Linked DNA regions of Homo sapiens. The protein of the gene in region 3 purifies or fractionates together with the protein of the main gene of each other region. This does not show direct contact. Each region holds a gene or a part of one and is shown on either strand. Other genes may lie near its edges. The genes, in order: ZFP1, MYCBP2 and SESN3.

Evidence for each region.
Region 1: the proteins of SESN3 (region 3) and ZFP1 purify together in Homo sapiens (affinity purification with mass spectrometry; 3 studies listed by BioGRID and IntAct, with this or other methods). This does not show direct contact.
Region 2: the proteins of SESN3 (region 3) and MYCBP2 purify together in Homo sapiens (affinity purification with mass spectrometry; 3 studies listed by BioGRID and IntAct, with this or other methods). This does not show direct contact.

What each region holds. Positions count from the first base shown.
Region 1 is NC_000016.10:75,150,296-75,160,767, forward strand, and holds part of ZFP1 (zinc finger protein 1 homolog), read left to right. Parts: intron 1-2,613; coding exon of another isoform or gene 2,614-2,656; coding exon 2,657-2,671; intron 2,672-6,841; exon of another isoform or gene 6,842-6,916; intron 6,917-8,857; exon of another isoform or gene 8,858-8,879; intron 8,880-10,472. UniProt on the Homo sapiens protein: May be involved in transcriptional regulation.
Region 2 is NC_000013.11:77,324,095-77,334,992, reverse strand, and holds the start of MYCBP2 (E3 ubiquitin-protein ligase MYCBP2), read left to right. Parts: upstream 1-7,898; 5' UTR 7,899-8,004; coding exon of another isoform or gene 8,005-8,088; 5' UTR 8,089-8,217; coding exon 8,218-8,519; intron 8,520-10,898. Other genes in the region: uncharacterized LOC127898562, read left to right, coding at 8,005-8,088. UniProt on the Homo sapiens protein: Atypical E3 ubiquitin-protein ligase which specifically mediates ubiquitination of threonine and serine residues on target proteins, instead of ubiquitinating lysine residues.
Region 3 is NC_000011.10:95,226,334-95,237,357, reverse strand, and holds the start of SESN3 (sestrin-3), read left to right. Parts: upstream 1-6,155; 5' UTR 6,156-6,497; coding exon 6,498-6,575; intron 6,576-6,862; exon of another isoform or gene 6,863-7,172; intron 7,173-11,024.

The DNA.
Region 1 (10,472 bases), on a different chromosome or scaffold from region 3:
CCTACCAGGTTCACACCATTCTCCTGCCTCAGCCTCCAGAGTAGCTGGGACTACAGGCGCCCGCCACTACACCTGGCTAATTTTTTTATTTTTTTTTGTATTTTTAGTAGAGACGGGGTTTCACCGTGTTAGCCAGGATGGTCTCTATCTCCTGACCTGGTGATCCACCTGCCTCGGCCTTGCAAAGTGCTGGGATCACAGGCGTGAGCCATCGCACCCGGCCCAGATCTTTTTATATTATTGATTTATAGTTTAATTCTGATTTGGTCAGAATACTGTGTTACGAATTTCAATTATTTTAAATTTGTTGTGGTTTGTTTTTGTATTGTATTTTTGTTTCATTTTGTTTTAGTAGACTCCTGGTCTCAAGTGATCCGCTGACCTTGGCCTCCCAAAGTGCTTTACAGGCGTGAGCCACTGCACCAGGCCTGTTGTAGTTTGTTTTAAGGTCGAGGATATGATGATCTCTCTGGGTAACTGTTTCGTGTGTATTTGAATAAATATTGTGCTGTTGATCGTAGAATCTTCCTTGATTGATTGATTGATTGAGACAGGGTCTGTCTCTGTTGCCCAAGCTGGAGTGCAGTGGTTCAGTCACAGCTGTCTGCAACCTCAAACCTTTTGCCTCAGCCTCCCGAGTAGCTAGGACTGCAGGTGTGCGCCCTAATCCTTTTGCCTCAGCCTCCGGAGTAGCTAGGACTCAAGGTGTGAGCCACCACACTCAGCTAATTTTCTGTATTTTTTGTAGAGACGAGGTTTTGCCATGTTGCCCAGGCTGGTCTCAAACCCCTGGGCTCAAGCAGTCCACCCACCTTTGCCTCCCAAAGTGCTGGGTTTACAGGCATGAGCTACTGTGCCTGACCCTCTTTTTCCATTCTTTTATCTTTTTTTTTTTTAATTTCCTGACTCCTACAACTGATCATCCTTTTACTTTGAATGTAGCTATGTTTTTATATTTTAAACAAACTGCTTATAGACAGCACATGGTTTGGTCTTACTTTTTTTATATAATTTGACCTCTGTTATTTAATTGGTGTGTTTATGCCAATTATTGATATAGTTGTGTTAAAGTCTACCATCTTGCTGGTTTTTTTCTGTTTTTCTTATTTGGTCTTTGTTTCTGTTTACCTTTTTTTCTGTCTACTTTTGTCTTAAGTGGGTCTTTTTTATAATTACATTTTATCTCCACTGTTGTCTTATTGTATATTTGTAAAAATTTAACAGAGTTTTTGGTTGTTACCCTAAAGTTTAGTGGAACTTTAAAGATATCATACTGTTTTATGTCAATATACTTGGAACATTATACTCCCAATTTCATCCTCCCGTCTTTTGCATTATTGTTGTCATACATGTTGCAGAATATTGACATATGCTGTAAACCCACAAAACTTTGCTACTATTTTTGCTTTAGATAATCTTTCACAGTGATTAAAAGCAAGAAAAAGTATCTATTGTGTTGATCCTCATTTTAACGATTCTCGAGATTTTCATTTATTTGTGTAGATTCAGGTTTTTGTCTGATATCATATTTCTTCTATTTAAATAACTTCATTAAACATTTCTTCTAGTGCAGGTCTACTGATAATGAATTCGCTATGTTTTTGTTGTTTGAAAAAGGTTTTTTACTTCATTATCATTTTTGAAAGATATTTTTGCTGGGTATAGAATTCTGAGTTAATAGTTTTTTGCTTTAGTTGCTTTTTTGTTGTTGTGAAAGCACTTTCAGGATGTCACTACTTTGTTTTCTGGCTTAGTTTCTGATGAGAAGGTGGCTATGATTCATTATCTTGATTTTTCTACATATAATATGTCTTTTTTCCTCTGGCTACTTTGAAGATTTTAACTTTGGTTTTCATTTGTTTGGATACGATGTGTCCATGTGTGTTTTTGTTTGAGTTTAGTTTTTGGTATTTTCCCTGTTTGGATAAATTGAGTTTCTTGGACCTGTGGTTTCATATTATTATTTTTGGAAAATTCTTGTCCATTATGTCTTCAAATACTTCTTTTCTCCTTTTGGAATTTCAGTTACATGTTTATTAGACCATTTGATATTGTCTCACAGCCCTTGGATGCTCTATCCTTTTATGTTTTTCTTCCATTTCTCTTTGAGTTTCAGTTTGACCTATCTTCAAGTTTACTGAAACTTTTCTTAGCTCCTTTGTCTACTAATGAACCTGCTGAAAGATCAACTCTGTTACTGTACTTTTCTTAGCATTTCCATTTGATTTTTTCTTGCAGTTTCCATCTCTGCTGAAATTCCCTATTTGTTTATTCATGTTGTCCACCTTTTCTAGTAAAGCCTTTAGTATATGAATCATAGTTGTGTTAAATGCCCTGTCTGATAATTTCAGCAGTTGAGGGTTCTGTTGATTGTTTTGCCTCTTTTGATAGTGGATTATCTTAGTCTTGCCTTTATGGGTGTCTGATAATGTTAGATTGAAGATAGGTGCTGTTAGTATGATCTTTTCTGCCCCTTCTGAAGAGGCAAAGGGACTTTCCCAGGAGGTGGTATTTTCCCAGGTGGTCTCTAGGGGTTTCTAAACAAGTCATTCTAGGAGTTGTAAGGCAGGTCAGACCTTTAATAACAATGCCTTCCTTTTTCCTCTATTCCAGTTCTGCCTTCATAGTTCTCTGCCTTTGCCCAAAACTGCAGAAAATGAACAAATCCCAGGTGAGTTGTTTGTTTATTCCCCATTTTGCTTTTCAGTGCATTTAAGGAAGTTTATAAGGATCCAGAAAATGAAATAGAAAAGTATGAATAAGACACAAAGGAAACATAGCAAGAATAACTAATCAATACCAGCAGCCAAAAAGCAAATTGAGTTAATTAAATGTCTTGCATTGGTTATGAATACCAATTATTTGGTTCTGTACATTAGGTCTGAATAAATTTTATGGACCTTCATATAGATGGTGTTTTGGACAGCACCCCCAGAAACAACCAACTTTGAAAGGGTTATCACTTTATCTGTGGTTGTTTCATATAACATTCCTCAGTGCAAGTGCAGAAGATTATTGTATGTATTTGGTTTTTCCAGTCAGATTAGCCTAATGCCAGAGAATGCAGTAAATATGTGGGTTTGTATTTAAATCCCTCCACCCCAAGCAGGTACCACTGTCATTACTTTCTTGTGTAGCTTTCCAGAGCTTATTTGTACATAATTACACAAGTACAAATAAAAGCACAAACGTAAGATAGCATGTTAATCATACTGTTCTGTTTATATGCGTTCTGTTTTAATAGATTTCATTTTTTTTAGAGCAGTTTTGGGTTTACAGAAAAATTGAATGGGGAATGCAGTGTGTTCCCATATACCCCCTCATTCCCAACCCCTACCCCCAGTTTCCTTTATTATTAATATATGCATTAATGTATATTGTTACAGTTGATGAGCCAATATTGATACTTTAAAGACCATAGTTTACAGTAGGGATCACTCTCTGTGTACATTCTGTGTATTTTGACCAATATATAATGACATGTATCCATCACTATGGCATCATACAGAATAGGTTCACTGCCCTGAAAATCCCGTGCTCCGCCTATGCACCTCTCCCTCTGTCTCCCTAAGTCCCTAACACCCACTGATCTTTCTACTGTCTCATCTCCCTAGTCGTGTCTTTTCTAGAATGTCATATAGTTGGATTCATGCAGTAGGTAGCCTTTTTAGATTGGTTTCCTTCACTTAGAAATATGCATTTAAGGTTTCTCCAAGTTCAAGACAATGCTGGCCAACACGGTGAAACCCCGTCTCTAGTAAAAAAAAAAGTACAAAAAATTAGCCAGGCGTGGTGGCGGGCGCCTGTAGTCCCAGCTACTCGGGAGGCTGAGGCAGGAGAATGGCGTGAAGCCAGGAGGCGGAGCTTGCAGTGAGCTGAGATCGCGCCACTGAACTCCAGCCTGGGCAACAGAGCGAGACTTTGTCTCAAAAAAAAAAAAAGAGAAGGTTCCTCCAAGTCTTTTCTTGGCTTGATAACTCATTTCTTCTTAGTACTGAATATGTCATGATGTGATGTACCACGGTTTATTTATCCATTCACATATTGAAGGAACAGATAAACTTAGTGGCTTCTAAGTTTTGGCAATTATAAATAAAGCTGTTATAAACATCTGTGTGCAGGTTTTTTGGGGGCATGTTTTCAACTCATTTGGATAAATACCAAGGCCCCTGGATCATACACTAAGAATATAATTAATTTTGTAAGAAACTGCCAAACTCCCTTCAATGTGGCTGTACCATTTTACATTCCCACATTCTCACCAGCAATGAATGAGAGTTTTTTTTTTTTTTTTTTTTTGGTTTTAAGGAGCGGAAAGTTTAATAGGCAAGAAAGAAAAGAGAAGGCAGAAGGAAGAGGCTCCCCTGACAGAGACAGAGGGAGGGGGGCTCCAAAGCCGAGAGAGGGAACCTCCTGAATGAGAGTTTCTACGGCCCTGCATCCTCACCAGCATTTTGTGTTGTCAGTGTTCTGGATTTTAGCCATTTTATTTATTTATGTTTTTAATTTTTATTTTTTTTGAGATGGAGTCTTGCTCTGTCACACAGGCTGGAATGTAGTGGCGTGATCTTGGCTCAGTGCAACCTCCCCTTCCCAGGTTCAAGTGATTCTCCTGCCTCAGCCTCCCGAGTAGCTGGGATTACAGGTGCGCACCACCATAGCCCAGCTAATTTTTGTATTTTTAGTAGAGATGGGGTTTCACCATGTTGGTCAGGCTGGTCTCGAACTCCTGGGCTCAAGTGATCCACCCACCTTGGCCTCCCAAAATGCTGATTACAAGCGTAAGTCACTGTGCCTGGTTATGGTTTGTGTTTCAATCTCTTAATTATGTGATTTGATTTTGTTTTGTTTTTGAGACAGGGTCTCGCTCTGTCACCTAAGTGGGAGTGCAGTGATGTGAACACGGTTTACTGCAGCCTCGACTTGCTGGACTCAAGCAGTCCTCCTGCCTAAATCCCCGCAAGTAGCTGGGACTACAGGCACATGCCGCCATGCTTACCTAATTTTTTGTATTTTTTTGTAGAGATGGAGTTTTGCCCTGTCGCTCAGGCTCATCTTGAACTCCTGAGCTCAAGCAATCCATGTCCACCTCAGTCTCCTAAAGTGCTGGCATTACAGGTGTGAGCCACCGTGCTCAGCCCAATTATGTGTTTTTTAAATCATTCAGTAACATATCTTTGAAGTATTTCCATATCAGAGCATAGAGGTTGCTCATTCTTTTTTTTCCTAATCTTTAATTGTGTGACACATGTACAGAATAGTGTATTAAGACATAACACTCTTTAAATGTGTTATAACAACATATATAACAAATATATATGCATTAAAGAATAATAATAAAATGGGTGCCCATGTAGGCACCCAAGTTAAGAAATAGAACATTATCTGTTCTTTATGACAAATTTTCTGATTGAATCCACCTAGTAGATAGCCACTATCTTGACATTTTTCTTAATAGTTCCCTTGCTTTCCTTAAAGACTTTACCACTTAGATATATTCTTAATGTAATATTCAGTTGATAAACTATAACTGGGATTAATATCACTTATAGTCTTAATATAAAATTTAGTTAACAAACTATAACTGGAATTAATATTGCCTTGGTTTGCATAATCTTTTGTCTAATTGGTGGAGGTTTTTTTTTCCTTTCAGACATGTGAGATCTAAAAGATGCATCCGTGGGCCCTTTGCCAAGACTTAGGTTATCATTTATTTTTTAAATTACACTAGCTAGTGTTAGCTAAGAAGAAATGAAACCACTCATGTATTGCTGGAGATAGTATAGAATGATACAGCCTTACTGGGAGCAATGTGGCAACACCAAGCAAATTTAGCAGTGTAAAGCAGCTGTGTCTAGAAATTTGGCTACTGTTGGGGCCAGGTGTGGTGGGTCACGCCGGTAATCCTAGCACTTTGGGAGGCCGAGGTTGGTGGATCACTTGAGGTCAGGAGATCGAGACCAGCCTGGCCAACATGGCGAAACCCTGTCTTTACTAAAAATACAAAAAAAATTAGCCGGGCGTGGTAGCATGCGCCTGTAATCCCAGCTACTTCGGAGGCTAAGGCAGGAGAATCGCTTGAACCCAGGAGGTGGAGGCTGCAGTGAGCCGAGATCATGCTACTGCACTCCAGCCTGGGCAACAGAGTAAGACTCTGTCTCAGAAAAAGAAAAGAAAAGAAAAGAAATTTTGCTACTGTTGGACAAAGCCTCCCAGGAAAAGATGAGCTGAATTGAATTTCCAGGTATAGCCTGGCTTTGACTTTCCTGAGAGTTTACAGAAGTCCCGTTTGGGGAGGTTATTGGCAAGGTCATGAGAAGCATGGGGCTCAACATAGTTGGGCCGTGTGACAGGGTCAGAGTGTAGACTAGGTATTGAATTTTTGGTACGAATATAATTAGAGGGAGTGGGATGCTATGCATTTTCTGCATCTTGGTTCACTGGTGAATAGCCACCACTCAGGAGTAGATTAAAGCAGAACACTTCTGTGACATGAAATGACTGTTCTCATCTGATCCAAGGCAGTCTGGTATGGAGGGGAAAGACAGATGTCATCAGAACATGTTCAAGATAAGCCAAACCAAGTACAGTTAAGAATCTGGGCCAGGCTCACCCAGGCATTCTGCCCTCAGGTTAATAAAAAGTTGGTACAGTGGCCGCAGGTATCTTGTTGATGACAACCCTCAGAATGCCAGCTTTTGAATCACTGTGTTCCAGTCCGTAACTACAAGTAATGTGGTGTTAGTAGAGAATCAGTGCTATTTCACCATCTCCCACCGCTGTCTCCTTCCCACTCCTAGGGATTTCCTTCCTCTCTCTCATGTTGATCTTTTGTTTGCAGCGTCTCTTTTTTGGATTACTGTTGTTTTATTGAAGTACATGCTTCAGCAGCTTCTTGAGAAAGGGTTTGTGAGAGGTATGTTTTTTAGGCTGAATTTCTGAAAATGTCTTTTTTTTTTTTTTTTTTTTGAGACAGTCTCACTCTGTCTCCCAGGCTGGGGTGCAGTGGTGTGATCTTGGCTCACTGCAATCTCTACCACAGGGTTCAAGCAATTCTCCCGCCTCAGCCTCCTAAGTAGCTGTGATTACAGGTGTGTGCCACTACACACGGTGAATTTTTGTATTTTTAGTAGAGACGGGATTTCACCCTGTTGGCCAGGCTGGTCTTGAACTCCTGGCCTCAAGTGATACGCCCTCCTCAGCCTCCCAAAATGCTAGGATTACAGGTGAGAGCCACTGCACCTGGCCTTCATTCTGTTCTGGTATTTGATTGATAGCTAGGTATGAATGTGGATTTGTCCATTCCTCAGTTTAGTTCTGTCAGGCTTGATATAATTTGAAGCTGTGTTAGTCATTGCATATATGGTTATGGATGTGTGCACACATATGATTCTGTCTTCCTGATGGACTTATCCTTTTATCATTTTGAAATGCCCCTCTTTATCCCTGATAATACTGCTTTTCTGATAAAAATAAAGCCATACCTACCTCTTCTGGGTTGGTTGGTTGGTTTGTTTTGAGACCGGATCTGGCTCTGTTACCCAGGCTGGAGTGCAGTGGCTTGATCTTCACTCACTGCAGTCTTTGCCTCCTGAGTTCAAGTGATCCTCCCAGTATTTGGAACTACAGGCGTGTACCACCATGCTCAGGCAATTTTTGTAGTTTTGTTTTTGGTAGAGATGGGATCTCGCCAGGTTGCCCAGGCTGGTCTCAAACCCCTAGGCTTACGAGATCTGTCTACCTCAGCCTCCCAAAGTTCTGGGATTACAAATGTGAACCACCATGCCTGGCCCATACCTCCTTTTTTTTATGATTAGTGTTATGGTATATATTTTATTTTTGCTTCAACCTATTTATGTTCATATGTTTATAGTATATTTCCCCTAAATAGCTTGTAGTTTGGTCGTGGTTTTGATCCAGCCTGTTTCTTTTTTCTTTTTTTGAGACAGGGTCTTCCTCTGTTGCCCAGGGTGGAATTTAGTGGCATGAACACAGCTCACTGCAGCCTCAAGTTCCTTGATCCAGCCTATTTCTGTCTATTTTTTTTTTTTTTTAATTTTTTTTATTTTTTGAGACAGGATCTCTCTTTCTCACCCAGGCTGCAGTGCTGGAGTGAAGTGGTGTGATCTTGGCTCATTGCAGCCTCAAGCAGTTCTCCCACGTCAGCCTCCTGAGTAGCTGGGACTACAGGCCTGTGACAGTTAATTTTAATTTTAATTTTTTTTATTTTTTTTGTCGTGATGAGATCTTGCCTCCCAAAGGGCTGGGATTATAGGCGTGAGCCACCATGCCTGGCCTATTTCTGTCTTTTAATTGGTTTATTATTTTATTTGTGATTTTTTTTTTTTTTTTACAGGCATAGGTGAATTTCAGTGTGTCATTTTGCTATTTATTTTTAGTTGTCCTGTGTGTTCCTATTTTCCCTTTTATCTTTTTTTTAAGTGGTTGCTGTAGAGATTACAGCTTATAATCTTAACTGACCACCTCTTTAATATTTTGCATATTACTTTACAGTTCGTCTGAAGTGTTTATGGGTTAAAACTAATATATAGGTACTGTCTACATCTGCTCCTTTTGGGTTGTTTATCTCTTGATTGTTTTTGTCTTGTCTTTTTTTTTTTTTTTTTGAGACAGAGTCTTGCCCAGACTAGAGTGCAGTGGCTTGATCTCCATTCACTGCAACCTCTGCCTCCCAGGCTCAAGTGATCCTCCCACTTCAGCCTCCTTAATAGCTGGGACTACAGGCACATGTCATTATGCCCAGCTAATTTTTGTATTTTTTGTAGACATGGAATTTCGTTGTGTTGTCCAGGCTGGTCTCGAACTCCTGGGCTCAAGCAATCCACCCACCTTAGCCGCCCAATGTGCTGGGATTTCAGGTATGCGCCACATGCCTGGCCTCGTTGTTTTGGCTTGCTTGATTTCTCCTTCATTCCTTCCTTCCTTCCCTTCCCTTCCCTTCCTTTCCCTTCCTTCCCTCACTTCCCTTCCTTCCCTCCCTTCCCTCCCTTCCCTCCTTTCCCTCCTTTCCCTCCCTCCCTCCCTCCCTCCCTCCCTTCTTTCCTTTCCCTCCCTCCCTCCCTTCCTTCCTTTCTCTCTCTCTCTCACTTTTCATTTTTTTTTTTTTTTTTTTGACAGAGTCTTGGTTACCCCCAGACTGGGGTACAGTGACAACGCTCACAGTTCACTGTAGCTGTGACCTCCTGGGCTCAGGCAACCCTCCCACCCCAGCCTCTTGTGAAGCTGGGTCCACAGACATGTGCCACTATGCCCGGCTAATTTTTGTACTTTTTTTAGACAGGGTTTTGGTATATTGCCCAAGCTGGTCTCAAACTCTTGGGCTCAATTTGTCCACCTGCCTCAGCCTCCCAAAGTGCTGGGATTACAGTCATGAGCCACTATACCTGGCCCTGGTTTTGCTTTTTCACATGTCTAGCAGTTTTGTTTGTATGCTGGATATGTTGTATGATACATAGCTCCTTCTAAAAAATGTTAAGTTTTGTCTGCCAGATAGCTAAATTATTGGCAGATGATTCTGATCCCATTGGGGCATGTTTTAAGATTTGCAGGTGTGGGTGTATCGGTTTGGTCATACTCCTTTCTCCTAGGGTGTGCTCCATCCTTCTAGGGCATGGCTTTTGTGGCATCTCAACTGTTTGCCAGTATCTCTATCTTTCTGGATTCAGACTGTCCCAGCTCCTCAGCACTATGCAACCTCTGAAATCTCTAGTCAGCTCTCAGTCTCACAGTCGATGCCACTAGTTGTCTTGGAGGCTTGCCCTCCACCTACACATATTAGGAACTAGCCAAAGATTTGAGGTGAATCTTTATGCAGAATGTTAAGGCTTCTCTATGGCTTCTGTAGCGCCATCATCCTATGTCTTACTCCATTTTGTGCTGCCATGGCAGAATACTTGAGACTAGGTAATTTATAAAGAACAGAAGTTTATTTTCTTGGCTGGGCAAGGTAGCCATGCCTGTAATCTCAGCACTTTGAAGGGCCAAGGTGGGTGGATCCCTTGAGGGCAGGAGTTTGAGACCAGTCTTGCCAACATGTACTAAACCCATCTGTACTAAACCCCATCTGTACTAATCCCATCTGTACTAAACCCCATCTGTACTAAACCCCATCTATACTAAAAATACAAAATTTAGCCAAGTGTGGTGGCTAACCCCATCTGTACTAAACCCCATCTGTACTAAAAATACAAAAATTAGCCAAGTGTGGTGGCACTTGTCTGTAACCCCAGCTACTTAGGTGGCTGAGGCACAAGAATCACTTGAACCTGGAAGGTGGAGGCTGTAGTGAGCTGAGATCATGCCACTGCACTCCAATCTGGGTGACAAAGCGAGACTGCCTCAAAAAAAAAAAAAAAAAAAGGAAGAAATTTATTTTCTCACAGTTCTAGAAGCTGAGAGTCCAAGATCAAGGTGCTGGTGAAGGCCTGGTCTCTTCTTCCAGGATGGCACTT
Region 2 (10,898 bases), on a different chromosome or scaffold from region 3:
GCAACTTATGGGCAGGGGTTTAGCTTTGAGCAGCCAGCAGTCAACACTCTCAACAGCTGGGGAATAAGAGCCTCATACCTGAAGGGGTATCTGGGAGGCACACTATAGTAATCTTTAATAAAATCCAAAGGCATCATATAAAATACAGTTCAGTGAACTTTCTGATGTTTTGACTTGATTAAAGGAAGAAAATTTAGGACCCAGGGGAATGAATGGGTTTTTATGCTTTTAAGTATTTTCCATAAATACATATTTCATTCGGACAGATTACTGATAGATTCTAGATAGGGAATGTGTCCTGAGAAGATGCTAGAGTTGGTATATCAGGTAGAATGCTTTGGCTGCAAGCAACAGAATACTTCATCAACAGTAGCTGAGACAATTAGGAATTTGATTTTTACCTTGTATAAAAATAAGTTTGAAACTTTGTTCAATGGTTCTATGATGTCAGGGTCAATATTTATGATGCTCTTGGCCTTATCTCATGCCTCTTGTCTCATGGCTATGAACATCAGCCATTCTGTCCATCTTTTAGGTAGAAAGAAAGGGAGAGAGAGAGAAGTAGTACTAGCAGATTTTCCCTCACTGTGCTGTCCTGAATTGTGTCACGATGCCAACTCTAGGTGCAGGACAGACTCACAGAGAAAATATTTCACTTTTTCCGGCATCCAGAATGGAGGCAGGCAAGGAAGAAGGGGATTTAGAATGGGTGTGAGTGAGCCAACTAATATTTTCAAAGCAGATTTCTGTTTTGCTGCTTGATGTCAGATCCGCAAGCTTTCAAGACCAGATGAAAGATGATAAAATGCCATCCTTTGGCTGAGAAACCAAATCAGGTTTATTATTTGGATGGAAGACCATCTGTACCATTCAGGGTCCAATCAGGAAAACAGATAAATGCATGCCAGGTCATTAAGAGAGAGAATTGAATATGGGGAACTAATTGCAATGCTACTCTAGGAATAGAAAAGCCAAACAAGGGACAGAGATATCTACAATCCCTAGGGCTGGAGACACCAAGGAGAAAACGCTGCTACCAGGGTCCACAAGCTGGGGCTGCTCAGTGAGAACTGGCTTTACGAGAGGTTACCTAATTGCAGCTGGACCATGGAAGGAGAAGCTGTTCAGCAGGAGCTGGAACCACAGAGGAGATGTTGCCTAAAGTTGGCGGGGGTGGGGTGCCGGGAGAGAGAGAGAGAGAAATTGATTCTCCTGCTGCCTACTTGCCAGTCACCCATTTTGCCCCCAGGCTGAAGCTAATTTGAAACTAGCTGGCAAGGGAAGCCTGACAAATGGAATTTGCAGGGATCCTTCCCCTGCTGTACAGAGCAGAGCAGGAGAATGGACAGGAATGGACTCAAGAGCAAATAAGCAGATTCCTGGCACACCACCCCACCAACACTGAGGTAGACTTTAGAAGTACCTGCAGGGATGCCACAGTTTTTCTCTGCAAGCAGTGTTGTCTTTGCTGCACCACAAAAATTAGTAATTAATTCAGTTCACAACAATTTGGCATCAAATAGGTAAGATTATTTTGTCTATCCAAGAAAATTCTGTCACCACAAGTTAATTTAGGAAGACTGTGAAATATTTTTTATGACTTTTATGTTCTAAAAACTTTTAAAATAGCTTCCGGTCTAGTTTGAAGGCAAACCTGATATGATATCAAAAAAGAGGCAAAATATTCTTAAGAAAAATTTTTTATGAAGAACTGGTAAATTGGCTCCTTTTTACTTTCTAAATATAAATGTAGAAATATTCATCAAAATAGGAAGCCAAACTAGGCAAGGTCAAGATTTTGATGTTAAATTCAGATTAACCTACAGAAAATGTAAATTATAGATGATTTATAGTTTTTGAATCTGGAGAGATACCATAGCTACTAGCCTTTTGAGAAGAAACTATAGTCTGTTTTGGCTGTTACATGTCGAAATGTATCCATCAGTAAAAATTCAAAACACTTATTGAATTTATGAAGGTAGGCAATGTGTTTTGTGAGTTAACAAATTATACAAGAATGGGTATTTTAGGGAAACAACTATTGTCTTTGGATTCTATTCTTCCTGTCATGTCAAGACACAGTAAATCTTTATTTGTGGACAGGACTCTTTGTTAAGAAAACAACAAGAAAACCAACTTTCAAATCCTAATCTATATAACTCAAATTGTATAACTGTTTTGTTACTTCTAGCACAAGATTAGGACATCCCTCAAATAAGGGATCATTAATATATTAACATAATATTGACAATAATAGCTATGGCCTGCTATGTAGTATGTTAAGCAAGTAAGTCATACAGATTATTTAATTTAACCCTCAAATAATCTAATGAAGTAGGTGCTATTATTATTCACTTTACTGATGAGAAGATGTAGCATGAAAGAGGTAAAAGTCTTTGAAAAAAAAGACCATGACTAATATAGTCATTTTAGAGCCATTTAGTTATATCAGGTTATCTGGATTTGGCAATAACCCTATTAAATATATTTAAAAGAAACATTAATATGACATAGTTGCTATTCTACATGAGAATTTCAATTATCCTCTTACTATTTAATTTTAGTAATAAAGATCAATCTAATATCACGCCAGTTAAAAATGGCTTATGGCCAGGCGCGGTGGCTCACGCCTCTAATCCTAGCACTTTGGGAGGCCAAGAGGGGGCGGATCACCTGAGGTCAGAAGTTTGAGACCAGCCTGGCCAACATGGTGAAACCCCGTCTCTACTAAAAATACAAAAATTAGCCAGGTGCGGCAGTGCGTGCCTGTAATCCCAGCTACTTGGCAGGCTGAGGCACAAGAATCGCTTGAACCCGGGAGGCGGAGGTTGCAGTGAGCTGAGATCATGCCACTGCAGTCCAGCCTGGGTGACAGAGTGAGACTGTCTCAAAAAACAAACAAACAACAACAAAGAAAATGGTTTCTATCCAAAAGACAGGCAATAACAAATGTTGGCGAGGATGTGGAGAAAAGGGAACACTTGAACACTGTTGGTGGGAATGTAAATAAGTACAACCACTATTAAGAACAGTTTGGAGGTTCCTCAAAAAACTTAAAATTGAGCTACCATATGACCCAGCAATCCCACTGCTGGGTATATACCCAAAGGAAAGAAAATCAGTATATAGAAGAGATGTCTGCGCTCCTGTTTGTTGCAGCACTGTTTACAATGGCCAAGATTTGGAAGCAAACTTATTGATGTAAGTGTCCATCACCCTATAAAGGGATAAAGAAAACGTGGTACACACATACACAATGGAGTACTATTCAACCATAAAAAGAATGAGATCCAGTCATTTACAATAGCATGGACTGAACTACAGATCATTATGTTAAGTGAAATAAGCCAGACACAGAAAGACAAACATCACATGTTCTCACTCGCTTGTGGGATCTAAAAATCAAAACAATTGAACTTATGGACATAGAGAGTAGGATGGTTACCAGAAGCTGGGAAGAGTCATGAGGAGTTTGGGGAGGGGAGATGGGGATGGTTAATGGGTACAAAAAAAAAAAATCAGAAAGAATGAATAAGACCTACTATTTGATAGCATAATAGGGTGACTATAGTCAATAATAACTTAATTGTGTATTTTAAAATAACTGAAAGAATGTAACTGGATTGTTTGTAACTCAAAAGATAAATGCTTGAGGGGATGGATACCTTATTCTCCATCATGTGCTTATTTCACATTGCATGCCTGTATCAAAATATCTCATGCATCCTATAAATATATACACCTTCTATGTACCCACAAAAAAATTTTAAAGTAATAACAAAATTTAAAAAAGATTAATCTAATAACTTATAAACTATACTAAAGTTTTCAAGGTTGAAATGCTATAGTTTTAAACTTTCTGTTTTTAGGACAATTATACTTTATATAACTTTCTACATCAGTTGTGAAAACATCCTCTAGGCTAAATGCATCACAACAATGAGATTTTGAAAGAATGTGATTTGCATTCAGATATATAGTATTGAATTCACATACTTAAAAAACATATACTAATATATTTTAGGATAATTTTTCACGGATGAAAATGTCAATATATGTCAATATATAACTTAGGATCCCTGGAACCTAAATTTTTGGATGTGGGAAAACTTGGACATATAATTTACATCTTTTAAAACTACCATGAATAAAAAAGAAAAACATTAACTCATCATGCTTACAAGTTACTGAATATCCCAAGGCCCTAAAAATATAGTTGTTTAAAGCATGAGGTTAAGATAGCCAGGGGATGCAATATGTAATTTATGTTTAAAATAATTTCGATAGCCATGTTGAATTTTTCCCTTCAGCTTGGAGTACTAAATATATTCTATGAAATATACTTTATTTTAAAGTGCAATATATTTGTCAAGAATGCACTATCTTATTACCCTTAAAAAGAGAAGGTCACTGAAGAGTAAAGCATGTCTTCACTCTTCAAGCCTAAGCTTTTTCTTTTTTTTTTCCCAAATTGTTCTCAGCTACCAATTTTGTTTTTAAATTCCCCAATACATTGTTGTACAAATCCAGGAAACAAACGCAGACTTTACCACAGCATTTTCAGCAGTCTCGATGTACCTAATAATATACATACTTCCTGTGTTTGTAGTCTTGTAGCTTTAGTACAATATTAACCCTTTAAATGAAACAACACTAATCTGTCCTCTTATATACACGTTATGGTTCCTGCCCTGTTATTTACTACATCAGCACGGGTAGCTTCCTTTAAAAACAAAATCGTTAAAGATGAGAGTAGGAAAAATGTAAATGTGATAAGAGTTCAAAAAACTGTGGTCCAGGTTTGCAATGTTAAGTGGAAAAGAACGACTAAATCTGTGATCACAAGGGGAAAGATGAAGCCATAGTCTTATTACATGGGCACAGGACAGAGAGATCTCTTTTGCGAAATGAGCATACCAACCACAAAGAATAAAACATACTACGCCCGTAATAAAATGGGCACAGGCAGGATTTGCCGTAGTTCAATGCTATTCTTTGAGGGCGAATGTGTCGTGGGTGAACTGCTGTCTAGCCCATTCCGACACCCAAGCCGCCCAGGCGGCCCCCACGCCCCCCGGCTGCAGCCCTCCCTGTACACACAAATGCACACACGCCCAGCCCGGCCGCTGGAGGAACTAAGATGGCAGCGCAGAAAGCACGGGGGCCGAGCTCGGTGGGGTGGGGAAAGAAAAGCAAAGCCCTCTGTGTTTTTTCATTCTGTATAGGTCCCCCTCTTTCCCCAAACACAAGGGCTGCGTAAGGCATTCGGTAGTAGAGCTCGCAGGAGCGGCGGGAGGGGACGCTTGCTTTGCATACTGCCAGAAACCCACGTCTCCGATCTGCAGCGACGGTTCAGGCGACCCTCGCGACTTGTGACCACACTCTCCTTCACGTCCCCTTGACAGTAGAAGTAAGGGTGACTCCAAATGCCTTTTTCTTTCTGGCATGCGCCCCACTCCCCCGCCATCCCAGGGGAGCCTTCCAAGTTGCCCAGCTGCCAAGGCGGTAGCTGTGGCAGTTGCAGGGACCGGGGAGCGCGCCGTGCGGAGGCAGGAAGAGGAGGAGGAGGAGAAAAAACGCTGCACTGGCTATCAATTTTGAGGAGAGCGACCGCTGCCGCTGCCGTGGAAGGAAACGCTGCCAACCGCAACAGAAATGCCACTCTCGGATACCTAAGTGAGCATGTGTGCGACTCTGCGCACGCCTAGTTGCGCAGCTCAATGACATCGGGCTTCTTAGCAAGTTATCCAGTTTCCGGGTTTTGAGTGTACCCATCAGGCTCCGTAGGGGCCTGTCTGGGACTGAACAGCAGTAAAGATTGAAGCGAAATTAATGAATGGTGGGAAGAGCCCGGAGACCAGGGCAGCCACGCGGGTCAATGTCCACTAGAAACTCTAAATGGGCAGTGACTGCACATTCCACCACCTGAGCCTGCGCTGTAAATGTTTTCTGTGCAAGCAACATTCATTCATTCAGCCAACATCTATTTCCCTCCTGTTCAGGGCTAGACCCTGTGCTAGGAGCCTGTGATGGTTGAACAGACACCATTGCTACCCTACGGAAAACCTAGTGTTTTGTTTAGTATGTGCTACCATTTGTGAAAATTCATGTGCCAAGTTGGACATCCTAGATCCTTTAAGTCCTCCCTCAATCTCATGTAGTGGGTATTCTTTTGAGCATTATTCAGAGGAGATAATTTGCCCAAAGCCAGACAAGTATTAAGTAGCAGAGTCAGGATCCAATTCCAGGGCTGTCTGATTTCAGAGCCTTTTAGCTACCCTGCTAGGTCTTGCAATAGTAATGGGCCCTCTCATTGCTTACCTGTCAGGCCTTAGAATTCTTAGAATTTAGCTGCCTCTACACCATTGTCTTGGTTCTCACTCCAGGGTTAGGGGCTGCCTGGTCAACACTGAGGTCTTTAACTGTGCTGAAGCATTAGGATAGAAATTTAGTCTAATAAATACTTACTGGATACCTACTACATGCAAAGTCCTGAAGTGGCTGAAGGAGACACAAAAGCAGCAAGCTCTGAAGGAACTTAGGTAAGGAAACAAGACAAATACAAAAACTTAACAGGGCTAATTACAGTACTAAAATACTATGATTCCACATGTCTTGTCCTTTGTTCCTATGTTTATCCCACTGCTAATTATCTTTAAAAAAACTAAATGAAATCCATCCATTATTTAAAGCTTCAGAAAAAAATGCATTGCTTTCAGCAACCTTCCACCCTAAAACTAGAATTAATTTACTTTCCTATTCCTTGTTGTTTGCACTTCTCAAACACTAAGGAGGATTTTTTAACATTTATTTTATTTTTTTTTAAGAGAAGGCCATCCGAAGAAGAGGCACAGATATAAGAACTAGTACATAGATGAAAGATACAGTACTGGGATGACAGAACTTATAAATTATTTTGTCAGGACTGTAAATTAGGAAACTCTTCAAATTGAGAGTCAAAGGATAAAACGTAGTAGGAATCAAAGTGCATTGGCACGTATATTTCTAGAGCATATACTTAGATGGGGTTCGTAGGTTAGCTTGGAACAAAGGACTGAGCAAATGTTACTTTTTTATAGACAACAACAAGATATGTGATGGATCTGACATTTTCAGACGCTATACAGTCTCCGTCACAATTATTGTTTCAGATCGCATTCAAGAATTATCTTTAAAAATGTAAGTTTGGGCAGAAAAAAATAAACCATTAAATGACCACTGCCAAGAGATAAAAGTGCACTCTTAGGTGAGTGAGGAGTCAATAAAAAAGAGTAATTTAAAAAATATTATTGCTCCGTTGAGAACAAGAATTTGGGAATGACTCTGGCTTGTGAATACTAGCCTATCTGTTATACTTTCACACACAAAATACTTTCACACACAAAAAAGAATGTGCTAGATTACTACCTGTCTTTGTAAGTAAAAGCTGTGTTAAACAAGCGTAAATCCTAATGACAAAAACCATATAAAATAAGATCGCTAAAGGCACTTCTAATTGGGATGGTTTTCTCTGCCTTAAACTCTGAATTAACCAGCACAATTCACAGTAAATCTTCCTGTTGGCAGCAGAGCCTTGGAGAAGAGGTAGCAGAAGAGCGTGCCACTCCTCCTCTGGCGATGGGCACGTTCCCCCTTGCTTTCTGGTCCTCGTTCTTCCACCTGGAGGGAACCTGAAGTCGAACGTCAGTAGCTGACAGCCTCCCCAGCACTTTCCTTACTCTTCTTCAAGCTGCCAGTAAAACCCGGAGAAGTGGACTACTTCAGATTCCGCACAACCCAACAGCCCCAAACCCAAAGCCCCGAGGCGGAGGGAGTGGTGGCGGAGAGGGGGTGGGGAGGAAAAGGGGCGGCAGTTACTGAGCATGTGCGAGGAGTGGCGCATGCTCTGTGAGGCCGGCAGCTTCCCATTGCGGGTAGCCCCGGCGGTGGTGGCGGTGGTAGCGGTGGTGGCGGCGGCAGTGGCGGCACCGCCTCCTCCTCACATTCCCGGGGTGGCGGGGTTAGATGAGCGGCCCCAGTAGCGGCGAGGGCGGCGCGGGGGGGAGGAGGAGAAGAAGGAGGAGGAGAAGGAGGTCGCTGTCTTTGTAGTCTCCCTGCTGCGGGAGCCAGAGGCCGCCGCCGGAGCCGTCGTCGTTGGAAAAGGGCTGTGTGTGCGCGCGCGTGTCTGCCCGCCCGGCCCGCGGGGACGAGGCGGCGGCGGCGGCGGCGGCGGCGAGGATGATGATGTGCGCAGCGACTGCCTCCCCCGCCGCCGCCTCCTCGGGGCTCGGCGGGGACGGATTCTACCCAGCCGCCACCTTCTCTTCCTCCCCGGCGCCGGGGGCGCTGTTCATGCCGGTTCCCGACGGCTCCGTGGCTGCTGCGGGGCTGGGGCTGGGGCTACCCGCCGCGGACTCCCGGGGTCACTACCAGCTGCTGCTGTCAGGCCGGGCCCTGGCCGACCGCTACCGGAGGATTTATACCGCTGCGCTCAATGACAGGGACCAGGGGGGCGGCAGCGCTGGACACCCAGCCTCCAGGTGCGTCCCCAGGGTGCCCTTCCTTGCGCCCCATGCCGCCCTTCCTTGCGCCCCATGCCGCGCGTGCACCCGCGTGTGTGTGTGCTTGCGTGTGTGTACCTGCGCATTTATTGAGCTTTCAGTCCGCTCTGGATGTCTGTTGGCAGGAGCACTTATCGAGATAGGAGGGTGCGGTGGCTGCAGTTTCTCGTGTGTGTGTGTGTGTGTGTGTGTGTGTGTGTGTGTGTGTGTGTCTGCCTGCCTATGTGGGGGGATAGTGAGGGGTGGTAGGGGAACCTGTGATGCTGGAAAAGGCGATGGTGCTGGTCGGCTGTGACACGTGTGTGTATCGTTGAGGTAGGAGGTGGCATGGGTAGAGAGGGTAAGAGGATGATACACGAAGAGAATTGCAACAGTGGCAAGGGAAGTGGCGTTTTCAGTGTCTCTGCCGCAATGTTATTTGCACGTGCCGCCTCTCCCATGACATTCCTTCCAGCCCTTTCCACCTCCCTTCAATCTGCCTTTCACCAAGAGGAGTCATGGTATAGATTGGTTGAGTTTTGGATAAGCAGGCCCGAGGGATAGGCGTGAGGTTTGCTTTAAAAAGATTTATGAATAAGGGACGCAGATGGAGATCTGTGTGGATGCGAAAGGTGTCTGATAGAGATTTTTAGAGCTGTACTTTGATAACCGGGCCTTTTGGTCTTCTAGAAATGAGGTTGCAGTTACTCTTGTGATCTGATGTCCCATCGGCCATTTCTCTTCATCCTCTGTTCGATTTCCTCTGTTACTTACAGGCTTTAGAGTAGAGAGGGTTTTGTAGGGAAAAGGGGAAAACTGCAGAACTTCAGAATATGACAGCTGGTACAGCGTTCAACTGCCACTAGCTAGAAAATCTGAATAGCGCGTAGATTTGTCTCTTTTACTTGGGTTGGCTACACCTTCAGCTTCCTTGATGTAGATGTTCAGTTGGTTTCATTTTCTTTTTCTTAAAATGTGGGTGCTTTTTTTTGCTGAGGGCTCTCCTATTGTTTTCTTTTCCATGCCCTTACATGCCGCATACCCTGAAGGTTGGTGACTGACTTGTTTCACCAGCTTTGACAGTGGTAATTGGGAGTTGGCTTCATCTTTTTTTTCCCACAGCTTCTTGCAGTACATGGGGAAAACATAGTAGGAAACTGTCAAAATGAGTTAAAGAGTTTACTGTTATTTATTGAATGTGCAATTTATTAGGCAATTGTTAGGTGTCTTTTTCTCCCATTATGAAAGGGACGAGGCTGTAAGTCAGGTATTTGTAGCTTATCACTAGGTATCATGGCTTATCTGTTGGAGACAGTTGTAAAGCTGGAGCTTTGTTCACACTTTTTCTAGGTTAACCAGTTTTCTCATGTCTGTGATTGTTTACAGGATTGGGCACAGCAGTAGTTTTACCATATGGATGTAAACGTGTGTAACTATTTTTTGCTATCTGAACTGAAGGCCAGAATGGCACAAGTCTGTTTCTTGCTAATGCTTTTGAAAATAGCACAAAACTACGTGAGACAGTTTGCCCTGATAATTAGGTATAATTTTGATCTGTAAATCTCTAAATTATGGCACCGCAGGAACATCTTTACAAACTCCTCTCAAAGAATTTAAATTTATTTTGTGTATGGTTTCCAGACTTATGCAATAATTTTTGACTTGTATATTCCTGTTTTGACTTCCTACTACTAGTGTAATATGATTTCTGTGTATCTAGAACTATATTAACGGTTTTAGACAAAATTAACATAGATTAATCATATAACATTTGTGAATGATTTTTTAGCCCTTGGTCCATTTTTGTACAAGCCGTCAATGAAAAGTAATGAAGAATTAGTTCAAGTATTTCAAGAACTACTCATGGAAATCAGCATTATGTTATGATATTGCCTGCTAATGCTTGTTCAACGCAACATTATTGTTTATTTAAGTTCACATTATTTTATTACAAAAAGTAGCCTGCAACTACTCTATTGATGATTTGATTAAGAATTAAATCACATTTCTTATTAAAGATGTTGAGGAAAGTAGACTTGGGGTTTCGGCTCTGAATGAATGATAGAATTATTTGTATAGGGACACAAGTTAAAGGAGAAGATGATATCTTTTAGAGAGACTGAATGGAGCAATAATAGAGAATGAAGCTCTAGTGAGCATCAGGTTTAAAGGTGTGAGAGAAAGGAGACAGTGAAGGAAACGGAATCAAAATTAAGAAGAAAATCATGAAACAGTAGCCTCTGTGGCTCTAGGAGAGTGGATTGAAAATTCTCAGAAGTGGTAAATGTTGAAGAAAGTGAGAACCGTTTTCAGGTCATTGATAACTTTTGAGGAAGTGGTCAGAATAGAGGGATGTGGTGAGGAGTGAATGGAATGTGT
Region 3 (11,024 bases):
AAATAAAAAAAAATCTCCTAACAACAGTATATAATAATAGAACTTACATAGCATTTCTTATAAGCTAGGCATTGTTTTAAAGTGTTTTATGTAGAATTCATTTAATCTTTAAAAAAACTCTATGACAAAACTAATCTTAATATCTTCATTTCTGCAGATGACGAACATTGAGATACAGGAAAGTTAAGTCACTAGACCCAGGTCACACAGTATGTAGAGAGTATAACATCCTTTATATTGTGTCAGTTCACAGTAAGCATTTATTTAGGGCTTACAATGTATCAGTCACTTTGCTGAGCACTATAATGCATTATTTCAGTCCATCTTTACAATTGCCGTTCGAGTTAGGTAGCATTATTACTCCATCTTACAGATGAGGAGATTGAAAGCATAGAGAAATTTAGTAATTTGCCCAAGGTCATACATTTAGTAAGAGGCAAAGTCAATACTCAAATTTATGTCTAACTCCAGAACCAGGGCTTCTAGCCTCTATGTGATAATGCCTATCAAATAAAACACTTTCAATGCATCAGGCCTGGCTTCCTTGCTCTTCCAATATTGCCACATTACCTGTGGCTCCTTTATCCTAAAGCAACAATTAGAATAGGGATTTGAGCAGAATGAGGATAAGAAGCGGAGTTAGCAGCATAAAGGACATAGTAGTCTCTTCTTAGTTAGATAATTGTTCAGCCCATTGTGAGATATATATACATACTATATACAGTGTATATATGTATATATATATAATATATATATTAGGTCATTTTCACACTGCTGATAAAGACATTCCCGAAACTGGGAATAAAAAGGTTTAATTAGACTTACAGTTCCACATGGCTGGGGAGGCCTCAGAATCATGGTGGGAGGCAAAAGGCACTTCTTACATGGTGATGGCAAGAGAAAGATGGGGAAAAAGCAAAAGTGGAAACCCCTGATAAACCCATCAGATCTCATGAGACTTACTCACTATCACGAGAATAGCATGGGGAAAACCAGCCCCCATGATTCAATTACCTCCCCCTGGGTCCCTACCACAACACGTGGGAATTCTGGGAGATAAAATTCAAGTTGAGATTTGGGTGGGGACACAGCCAAACCATATCAATATACATATATTTTTTTTTCAGGGTACCTGACATCATCATACATCATACATCACAATATTGCTTGCATGTGACCCCTTTCCTTTTGTTATAGTAAAGAGGTGACAAATTTATTTTTAATTAGTGTTCTCTGATAAAGTTAACAGTGATAACTAACAGATCAATAATTTAGATGCTGGAGAAGGTTTATGGAGGTTGCAAATTCAAATCCCTACAAAGGGCAAGAAGATAATGTAAATAAAATGGCAAAATTATAACCCCTAGGGAGTGGCAGGGACCTTAGTAAACAGAAGAGTGCATGTCCAAACCAAATAGCCAGTAGTGAGCTTGACAGATGGTTGCCCTGTGGGAATATAAGCCCAGTGTAACCAGATCTGACAATTTTTCTAAAGAAAATGGAAATCTAGATTTTTGGTTTAAAAAAAAAATCCTGAATTGGGAATATTTGAAAGCAATTCAAAAATTTTTTAAAAAGCATCATGCTGGCTGACTTTGTGCAAGCCAAACAAATAAACCACACCCTTCACATCTGTAGGCCTTTTGTAGTCTGCTTTATAGTGGGGTTAAATACAGAAAACTCTGATCTGAAATGTTAGAAGAGCAAGCTGACAGGAATTTGGGTCCTGGTGGAATATTTGTTTTTTGAAAAATGAGCTTCGATAAGAATAATCTTAGTGGAGGTGGGTGATTGAAGAGGTGGAATGGGGTGGGAACTAAAGTAGTGGCCTTTTGAGAACAGATCCTCTTATTTCTCCTTTGGAGTAGTATTGGTCTTGGGCCTTAGAAAAAAATAGCAGGAATCTAATTAACAGCTCTGAGGGAGCAATCAATTTACAATTGTGTGAAGTGTAAATTCCTTTGTGCAAGAAACAAATTACAGTATTTGCAAATGTGTAAATAATGCAGCACTTTCCCAGCAATCCAAATGCTTTGGGTGTCCCCTTGAGAAAGAAAAAGAGGCCTGAAGAGGCAAAATGTTAGAAAGTGACCTATTGTCTCAAGAAATGGAGTTTTAAAAATATCTTTAGTAACTGATTTTTCTCAATTAACTCCTTATTTTGAAACTATAGAGGAACTCAGTTCTTTGGTCAATAGAATGAGAATATTTAAAGAAGTAAACAATTTCAAGTCCAAAGTCACAGCATATTATTAACAGGGTAACTTCAATCAAACATGCTAAACACAAAAATTTTCCTTCAACCCTTCCTACACCTCTGGTTTGTGGTAACAACTTTCATTTGATAAAAGAGAGAATGATGCCCAACCCATAATAGTTAATACATTCAATGTCAGAGAAGGATTGGTGACAGGTAAGAACATGAGCCTAATCTCTCTGCTTCAAAGCAGTGGATTTTTCTGAACAATTCAATTCACATTTATTGGGGTGCTTTTATAAAGAGTGAAACTCATTACTTTCTCCAAAATTTTTTTGAGCACTTCCCTATCAGTTGAGCTAGGAGCCAAGGATACAAAGTAAATGTTACTCTATCCCTGCCTTCAAGGGGTTTGAAGTCTAATGAGAAAACAGGAGTTAAACCTACCATTTCCCTAGTGAGCTTTTTGGTAAAGAAGAGGTATAGAGGGGCACTATGGATGCTTGGACAAGTGCTTGATTCAGGAAGTGTTTCAACAGAAGATATTCACCAGGCAGAAGGAAGAAGGGAAAGGGATTAAGGTAGAGGTAGGTGGAATACTGATGGGCCTTATGCAGAATGATAGCTTTCAAATGATTGCTCTCACCTGTGTTCTTATTCAAATCTTTCCACAAAATATTATAGCAAGTTGCACCATGAGCCTTAAGACATATGTATACCCTTTTACTCAGAAATTCCAGGCCTAGGAATCAGAGATTCTGCCAGAAACTTAAGTATAAGGAAGTTTATTTTGTTATTTACAATCATGAAAAATCTGAAACAACCCACATATTAAACAATAGCATAAGGATTAAGTAAGTTATGGTACATCCAAGCCATGTAATTTTATGGATTCTTTGCTTAAAAAAATTACACTTTAAAAGAATAATTCAAAACAAGCAACATGATTATGAGATAACAGTTTTGAAATGATGTACAATGTTTAATGAAGTATCATCCTAATTTTGTAATAAAAAATTAAAAAGTAGTTCTCAACATTGGTTGTAATTTTCACTCATATCCTACTTTTCTAAAGTTCTTTCTTGTTTTAAACATACCAGACAACAAAAGGGGTGGAGTTTCTCCTTGTTCTATGTGCAATAAAAAGAACTGGCTTTTGTTTCTTTTCCTCTTAAGTGCGATCCTGGGTTTGAAATAAAATTCCCTTTATAATATTCAGGCTGGCCAAGAAAGGAAGGAAGGTCAGGTGAAGAATGGAAGAGAAAGGAGATGTCCAGAAACTGAACATTTCCATGAGAGAGGAGAATAACTATGATGGGAATGAGGGTGTGAGGACAGACCAGAAAGGGTGGTTGCTGTGTTAAGAATAAGGTACTGGCATTGAGTAGTTGAGGGCAGAACATAAACACATACATAATGGTTCACTGTAAGAAATGTCACAATGTAATACATGATTAACTGCCAAATAAATAGCACTACAGACAATACATATTATAATAGTTTGGAGGAATTTGGTGCAGAGAGCCATCATATGGTCAGATACATGTATGTGACCATGTATTATTGAAGATATTCATCTACTAAAATCTTCCTTTAGCGATCTTTGTTAGAGGGTGTTATTGTATAGGACTAGATTCTCTCGGCTTTCCTTTCTGGAGGATTTAGTTACTGAAGAACTTAAAGGAACTCATTTCGAAAGGATTTTAGCTGTCAAGTGAAAAAAGAAAAGAAAAGGTTATAAGAAGAATGTGCTAGAAAACAATATGAATTTAAAATTCTATTTGAGAAAATTCAATCTGCACAAAAATTCACTTCATCCTTCAATTTCTCCTTTCCTTTAAAATGTACTCACATAAAATCTGCTTTAAAAGCCAGAACCAGCCAGGAATATAGCCCAAGAAATTTACCACTAAATGGGGACACATATGTGTTTCTTAGAAAAACTGTGCCTTGCTGACTTTCTCCCTGCATTTCTTGGTTCTCTGCATCGAAGGGCATGTGGTAATTCCCTCCTTTTCTGAATTTACTTGCTTTTACAGTTTCTTCTAACTGAATCTTAAGCACCTTCCCCACACCATTCATTGCTCTTTAGTTATGTATGTCTACACAGCATCAAGCGACCTTTAGCTAACACTGGCTAAATAGATCAACACCTTTACCCAACTACATAACTTAGACCCTTTTGGGGTTTTCTACTCTATTTTGATCTATTTAAACCTGATACTAGCAGATTTCCATTACCTTTGTTTCTTGTGTAGACTTGGTTTATATGTGTTGGTCTCTAAAAAGGGACAGAGAGGAGACAGCTGTTGAGAAATGAGAATGGCAGTTTTAACCGCACAAATTGGTCTAATAGCTTTGATATGCTAAACTTGCTAGCTCCTCCAAGTGTACCTTTCCGATTTTGCATAACACCACCCTGAATCCCTAAGGAAACCAGGGTTGTTGTTTTTTTTTAATTAAAAAGAAAAGAAAGAAATGCAAACCAGTGAAACCGTTCTTTTAAATCATCTCCACATAGATTTCATTCTACGAACTTCAGGCCTTCACAAATCCTGGTACGCTGGAGACCTTTAAAAAGGGAGAAGCCGAGAATACTGATTAGGTTCTAAAAATCGAAAACAGGTGATGTCATAATGCACAGTCCTGTGGCCACGGCCATGGCCGGGTGGGGAGCTGGGCTCCAGTGAGCACAGAGCTCCTTGCCAGTAGGCGATGCAAGTTATCTCTGGGGCCCGGAGGACACGAGTGAGGACCGGGCACCAATCAGGTTCTCGCTCTGCGCCGGCCTTTGTTCTCACTCGGGAGCAGGTTGCGGGCGTCTAGCATCGGGAACCCGCATTCGACTCGGACGCGCATTGCTAGCCCCTTCGGGAGACCTGGCTCCCCTACCCGTCTGTCCCGCCACACTCGGTCAGCCTGCGCTTTCCCCAGTCAAGTCTGCCTTCTCTCCGCAGAACGTGGACGCTAAAACCCTGACTTACCATTTTAAGCTTTAGAAGAGGTAGGTTTGTCCCAATAGTTTTAAACGACAATTTGTTCTCTGAACCTTCCTTTCTGAGCAGGGCGCTGTGCTCTGCATGTATCCGAACAGCTGCCTCAGGAAGGTCTTTTGGGTGAGAAAACAAGCCCCTTTGGCCTTTTAGTGCTGGACAAGTAAATGAACTTACATCTCTAAGATAACTGCTAGAAGGTGCTTCACAAACAAGAGGAAACCGCTAAACCAGAGGTTTTGTGTCTCTCCCCTCAAACTCGATTACTTGCGTAAATATATATATAACTCAGACATTTATCCCCTATCCGCCTCCCAAGCCTCAAGTAACTGAAATCTTTGCAAAACAAGGTTCACAATAAATGATGCGTAAAGTTCTTTGAGATCCCTGGATACAAAGTACTACATAACTGCAGTCTTCTTTACAGCTAAAGTTAGATTTTGGTGGAGAGAAAGCCTAACCACTGCCCTGAAGGAAGGAACATTTAATCCTCCCACTCCCCTCCCCCTTTCTCGAGAGATCAGGAAATATTTAGCTCAATCTTAGACTCTCTAGCGAGCTCTAGCTCCCAACTATTTATCTCATTCTCCTCACCACTTCTGCAGGGACCTAGAGAAGGGGGCGTAGCTTATCTTGGGGGTGGGGCTTGGAGGGCAGTATATTTGCATATGACACACCCTCGTCCTCTTATTGGCAGAGGAGAGCAAACTGTTCCCTGCTACCCTACTACTTAGCTAACCGCCACCTCCCTTCAGTTCCGAGCCTCGGAGATAAACTTAACTTGCCCGGAGATTCAAGGCTTCCTCGGCCCCTGCGATTGGCCGGCGCGACTCCCAGTCGGGCTCTCGTTGCTCATTGGCTGCGGGCTAGCGCCCTGGGGGCGTAGCCGGAGCTGTCCGATTGGCGGGAGGGGCGGTACCGGAGCGTGGAGGTGGTGAAGGTGGTGGGGCGGCGGAGGCGGGGCCGCACTGAGGCGCTGCGGCGGCGGTGGTGGCGGTGGCAGCGGTGGCGGCTGCTCGTCCTAGCCTGGCGGGGGCGGGGGTCTGGAAGATGGGGGCGGGTGGAACAACGGGCCGGTGAGGAGCAGCCGCCGCCGTCTCCGCCGTCGCTGGGGCAGCTGCCGCGGTGGTCGCCTCTGGCAGTGCCGCTAGCTTTCAGGCAGTCGCCTCTCCTCCCGACATCCCGCCTTGAGGAGGCTGAGGCGGAATCGCGGCTGGCGGCGGGGGGACGGACCGGCCCTGCAGTGGCCGCAGTGACAGCCCGGACCCGGCCCTCCGCCCGCTCTCGCCTCGGCGCCCGCAGCCACGATGAACCGGGGCGGCGGCAGCCCGTCGGCCGCCGCCAACTACCTGCTCTGTACCAACTGCCGGAAAGTGCTGCGGAAGGTACGGGTTCGGCCCGGGGTCCTGCCGGCGAGGGTCGCTTCCTGCCGGCCGGGGCTCGGGCGGCTCGTCCCCGGGCGCGCACTGGGGGAGGCTGAGAGGGATCCCCGGGCACCGTCCCTCCGCAGGGACTGAGAAAGGGGGCGTGGGTTGAGGGCAGGAGGGTTTGGACTACTGCGGCTTTTTATTTCCGCCGGGACAGACCCAAGTCTGGAGGGGTTGGGATATTTTTTCTTCCCTTGTTCCTTTTATTTGGTGCCTTTGCTCTCCTTTACGGCTCATTTCCCTACCTTGCTACCCCGGGTCGGCTCCTTGGGCGGAGGGCGGGAGGGATCCGTTCGATCCTCCTCCCTGTGCAGTTTAGCTGTTGATGGAGGTCGGTGTGAAATCAGAGCAGCTGGGTCGGATCCCGAGGAACCTGGCCCCTCTTTGCTGTGGCTAACTCTTGCGAGTGTTGTTTTTGTTTATTCGGTTGCTTCTGCCTTGCGCGCCTTGCTCAACAACCCCCGTTTTCAAATTGTTTGGATGGTAGTCCTGTGTCTGTAGTTCAGTCTCGAAAGGAACCAGTAAAGCATCTTGAACTTTATGCCCATGGGAAATGCAATTCGACCTGGCCAGTTCCTGAGGCTGGGGTTGGGGGAGGAGAAGACTGAGGTGGATGTGGGTTATTCCTCCTTAGCACCCCCCTGCCCCCGTGTTGATCCAGAAAAATGAGGCGCACCATCAGTTTATTGCTGCTTCCTAGAGTGACTGATAGAAAGTTTACTCCAGTATTGTTTAGCTTACTTGGCTTAATCGCCCCGCGGGGAAGGGCGAGAGGGATGGGGAAGGGAATGAAAAAAAGGTCTCTAGACTTTTTGATCAGATTTTAACAGCTGCCCCAAAGTAATATTATAATCAGTTTATTCGTATTCAAACTCTATTTTTACATTTTATTAAGTGGAAACGTTAGGTGAGATGCTTCTGTTTGTTCACTACAAATGAATTAAAATTGCTGAGCTGTGCAAATGCATCGGGACTGAAAGCGGAGATGAATATGGTACCGTTTTTAGTCAACATCTCTAAATACGGTTCACTTTGGGATTGTTCTTTCTACATTTTTTTTTAAAAAAGGAAGAAAGAAAAAAGCACATAAGTAAGCAAGCTCAAATATTTGCGCTCTTTGTCCAAAAACTGTTTTTCTTCCTCTGTGGGTCAGGCCAAGTGCCAATCAAAGTTGTTTTTCAAGCCTCTTTTCCCTGCAGTAGGGCTGCTGCTTTTTTTTTTCTTCCTATTTTATTTGAGAGCGTGAGAGCAAAGGGATTGCAGATTTGAGGTTAATTGAACAGTTAAATATGCCTTAAATTGTGTTTATTGGATATGTTTCTCTTGAAACAGATTTTTATTAAATGTGCATGTTGAGTATGTGCAGTTATTTTTTTCCATAAACTCTAGGATCAAATTACAGTTGATACTTGCTCAGCTCATTGTAGGGTAGCTTGTGAGAAATGTAATGGATCAGAAGTGCAGATCAGCTTAGTTGGATGTTAACTCTTTCACTGCAGGGCCAGATGTCATCTGAACTTAGCTTTCAAAAAAATTTATTTCTTAATTTTTAAATTTATGTTATGTCTTTGACATGAAAAAATGTGTCATTTAAGACATGTTTGATTAAAGTGCAGCCTGGTTAAAATGACAGCAAGTTATGCTTTTTAATTGAATAAGGAAAAAGAGCACTGTATTGACTTTGATAAAAAAATTTTTTAATGGCTCTGGCAATTTGTTAGGCTAATAAAATGTTTGGAGGTAATATTAGGCTTCAAAATGTATTTCATTTTTCTTTTGAGAGAGCTATGGCTATGGATCCATGACACTTTGCTAGCATTTAAGATATTACATCTTTCCTTTAGCTTTTAGGAAACTATTTCTGTTTACCTAGAAAGAACATCCTCATTTCTAGCCATTATTAAAAGAAACGTGGAAAAAGAGTATTCACATTTTCGTATTTTATAATTGCTGAGCACATCTCTGCCAGTATTCCAGTTTTTAGTAACTCCAAGGTATTTAATATTGATTCATGCAGTGGCATGAAATAACTTAATGGAAATAGGATTCTTTGAGCCAGTTATAACATGACTTGGCAACATTTGCAGCTTTTTAAAGAGTGCCACTTTGAAGTGCTCTTAAGAGAATCAGTATGTAGCATTTTAAATGTTTCATCATTCTTAAAATAACAATGAAAAGTTTATTTCTAATAAAGACATGTTTTTCTTGTTGATATAACTCTAAGTTAAAAGTCATCTATAACTCTCAAAATGTGATTCTTAGAGTTTATCTTGTTTTCCATTTAATAAAGTGTTCAGTAATGTAGCCAAGTGAGTCATAGTATTTTGAATGTTTGTTCAGTCTAATTCATAATGGAAGAATGAAACTCATGCTCATCCAGTGTGAATTACTTTTGCTTTTATATTTCTATATAATGATGGAAGAAGGGTCACCTTTATATGGGACAGAAAGTGTTATTCTCTCAGTAGGTGGCTTAATTTGTTGCAGTGTGTTGAATTTTAGGGGAACTTCACAAGGAATGGAATTCACCTTCAAATGAAATAATATGGTTTAACCCAATGCCTGAATATTGAATTATATATTGTATGAGAATTACATTTATTCTTAGAAGTCCGTTTACGGTTTTGATTTAGTATCCTCCAAAATAAAGAGACTTATTAAAATATTGAATGTACCTAATTTGGTAACCTTAGGACAGTAAAAAGAATGGAGAGGTAAACCATATCCATAAATAAATTAACCATCAAAACTATCCTGAAATCCCTAACTCTTAAGTCTAACTTGCTCTATTGTCAATGAGGTAGTTCAGTAAAGTTTTTAATAAAAGAGGAAATGCTTCTATTTATTTTGTAAAGTTAACGAGTTTTTAAGTTTAATCTTTTACTTGAAGAAATTCTAGTGATAACTAGAAGAACATAATCCTTTAATTTGAAAAGTCATGTGTCAAACTGCATTGAGGAAGGTAGGTAATTATCAGTCCACTCATCTTCCAGTAAATAAAAAAGTGGCATATTCCAATGTACTTTGGGTATTGAGCAGTTAGTGCTACTTAAATGAATAGTTTTGTGCTCTTTAGAGGATCTAACATTTAAACTTTTTTAATGTTAAGATAGTTATAGTGATATATCTTTGTATTGTTATTGCACTTTTCACTTTGTTATATGATCATATATTTTGACATCTTTTTGATGGTTTTATAAACAAAGATACTGTCAAAATGAAAAATACTAGATTGAGGACCGGGCATGGTGGCTTACGCCTGTAATCCCAGCACTTTGGGAGGCCAAGGTGGGCAGATCACGAGGTCAAAAGATCGAGACCATCCTGGCCAACATGGTGAAACCCCATATCTACTAAAAATACAAAAATTAGCTGGGCGTGGAATCGTGTGCCTGTAGTCCCAGTTACTCAGGAGGCTGAGGCAGGAGAATCACTTGAACCTGGGAGGCGGAGGTTGTGGTGAGCCAAGGTTGTGGTGAGCCAAGGTCACGCCACTGCACTGCAGCCTGAGCAACAAGAGCAAAACTCTGTCTCAAAAAAAAAGACAAAAAAAAAAAAGAAAAATACTAGATTGAACTATATGAGCCTCATTTTTATAGTCAAAATTGTTAAGTAATAGCAACTTTATATGGTTTAGCCAATAAAATGTATTTGCTCTATCTGTGGACCACTAGTTACATTATGCCTTGGTTAATCAGTTTTCTTGTGTTACATATTTTTGATTGTCAAAGGCAGTTTTTAACTTGATTATCTTAAATATCCTAAGCAGAGATCAAGTAGTTAATTAGTGATGGCAAACCTTTATGCAATGGTTTTCAAACTGCTTCGTATGGACCCTTAAGATTCTTTGGGGTTTTAAAATGCTTGAGTTGCATTAAATTTTTAAGTATGTTTTAACTTATTTTAAAACTGTAATTTAAAAATATGGGTACCCCCAAATATGTACACATAATTTTAATAACTGGAGTCTAACACCATTATCTTTCATTACAAAATTATTCTTGTGCAGGTCTTGAATTACAATTTGTTCTGCTATCTTTGTACAGATATTTGAATTTTTTTTTGTTACTGTGTCATGTATGAGAAAGATTGTCATTGATTGTGAAGGAACTGGCTTTTTAAAAAGAATTCCTTCCATATTTACTTAAGTTAAATGTTTACTTGTGAGAACACAAATTTATTGTTATCAGTAGTTGTAACTTTATTACTAAAATACTTGAAAGTTGCTTGGTATATTTATATGCTTTATAGTTCAGGTTCAATAGAAGATTTAATTTGTAAAAAGTGTTCTGCTGCTTCCCCCAACTCCCCACCCTAAATAAATAGAAAACATAACTACTAATGTAGTGATACTGGAAGCCACAGATGTGGTTGCAGTTAGGTCTTTAACAGATCTTTTGATTTCAA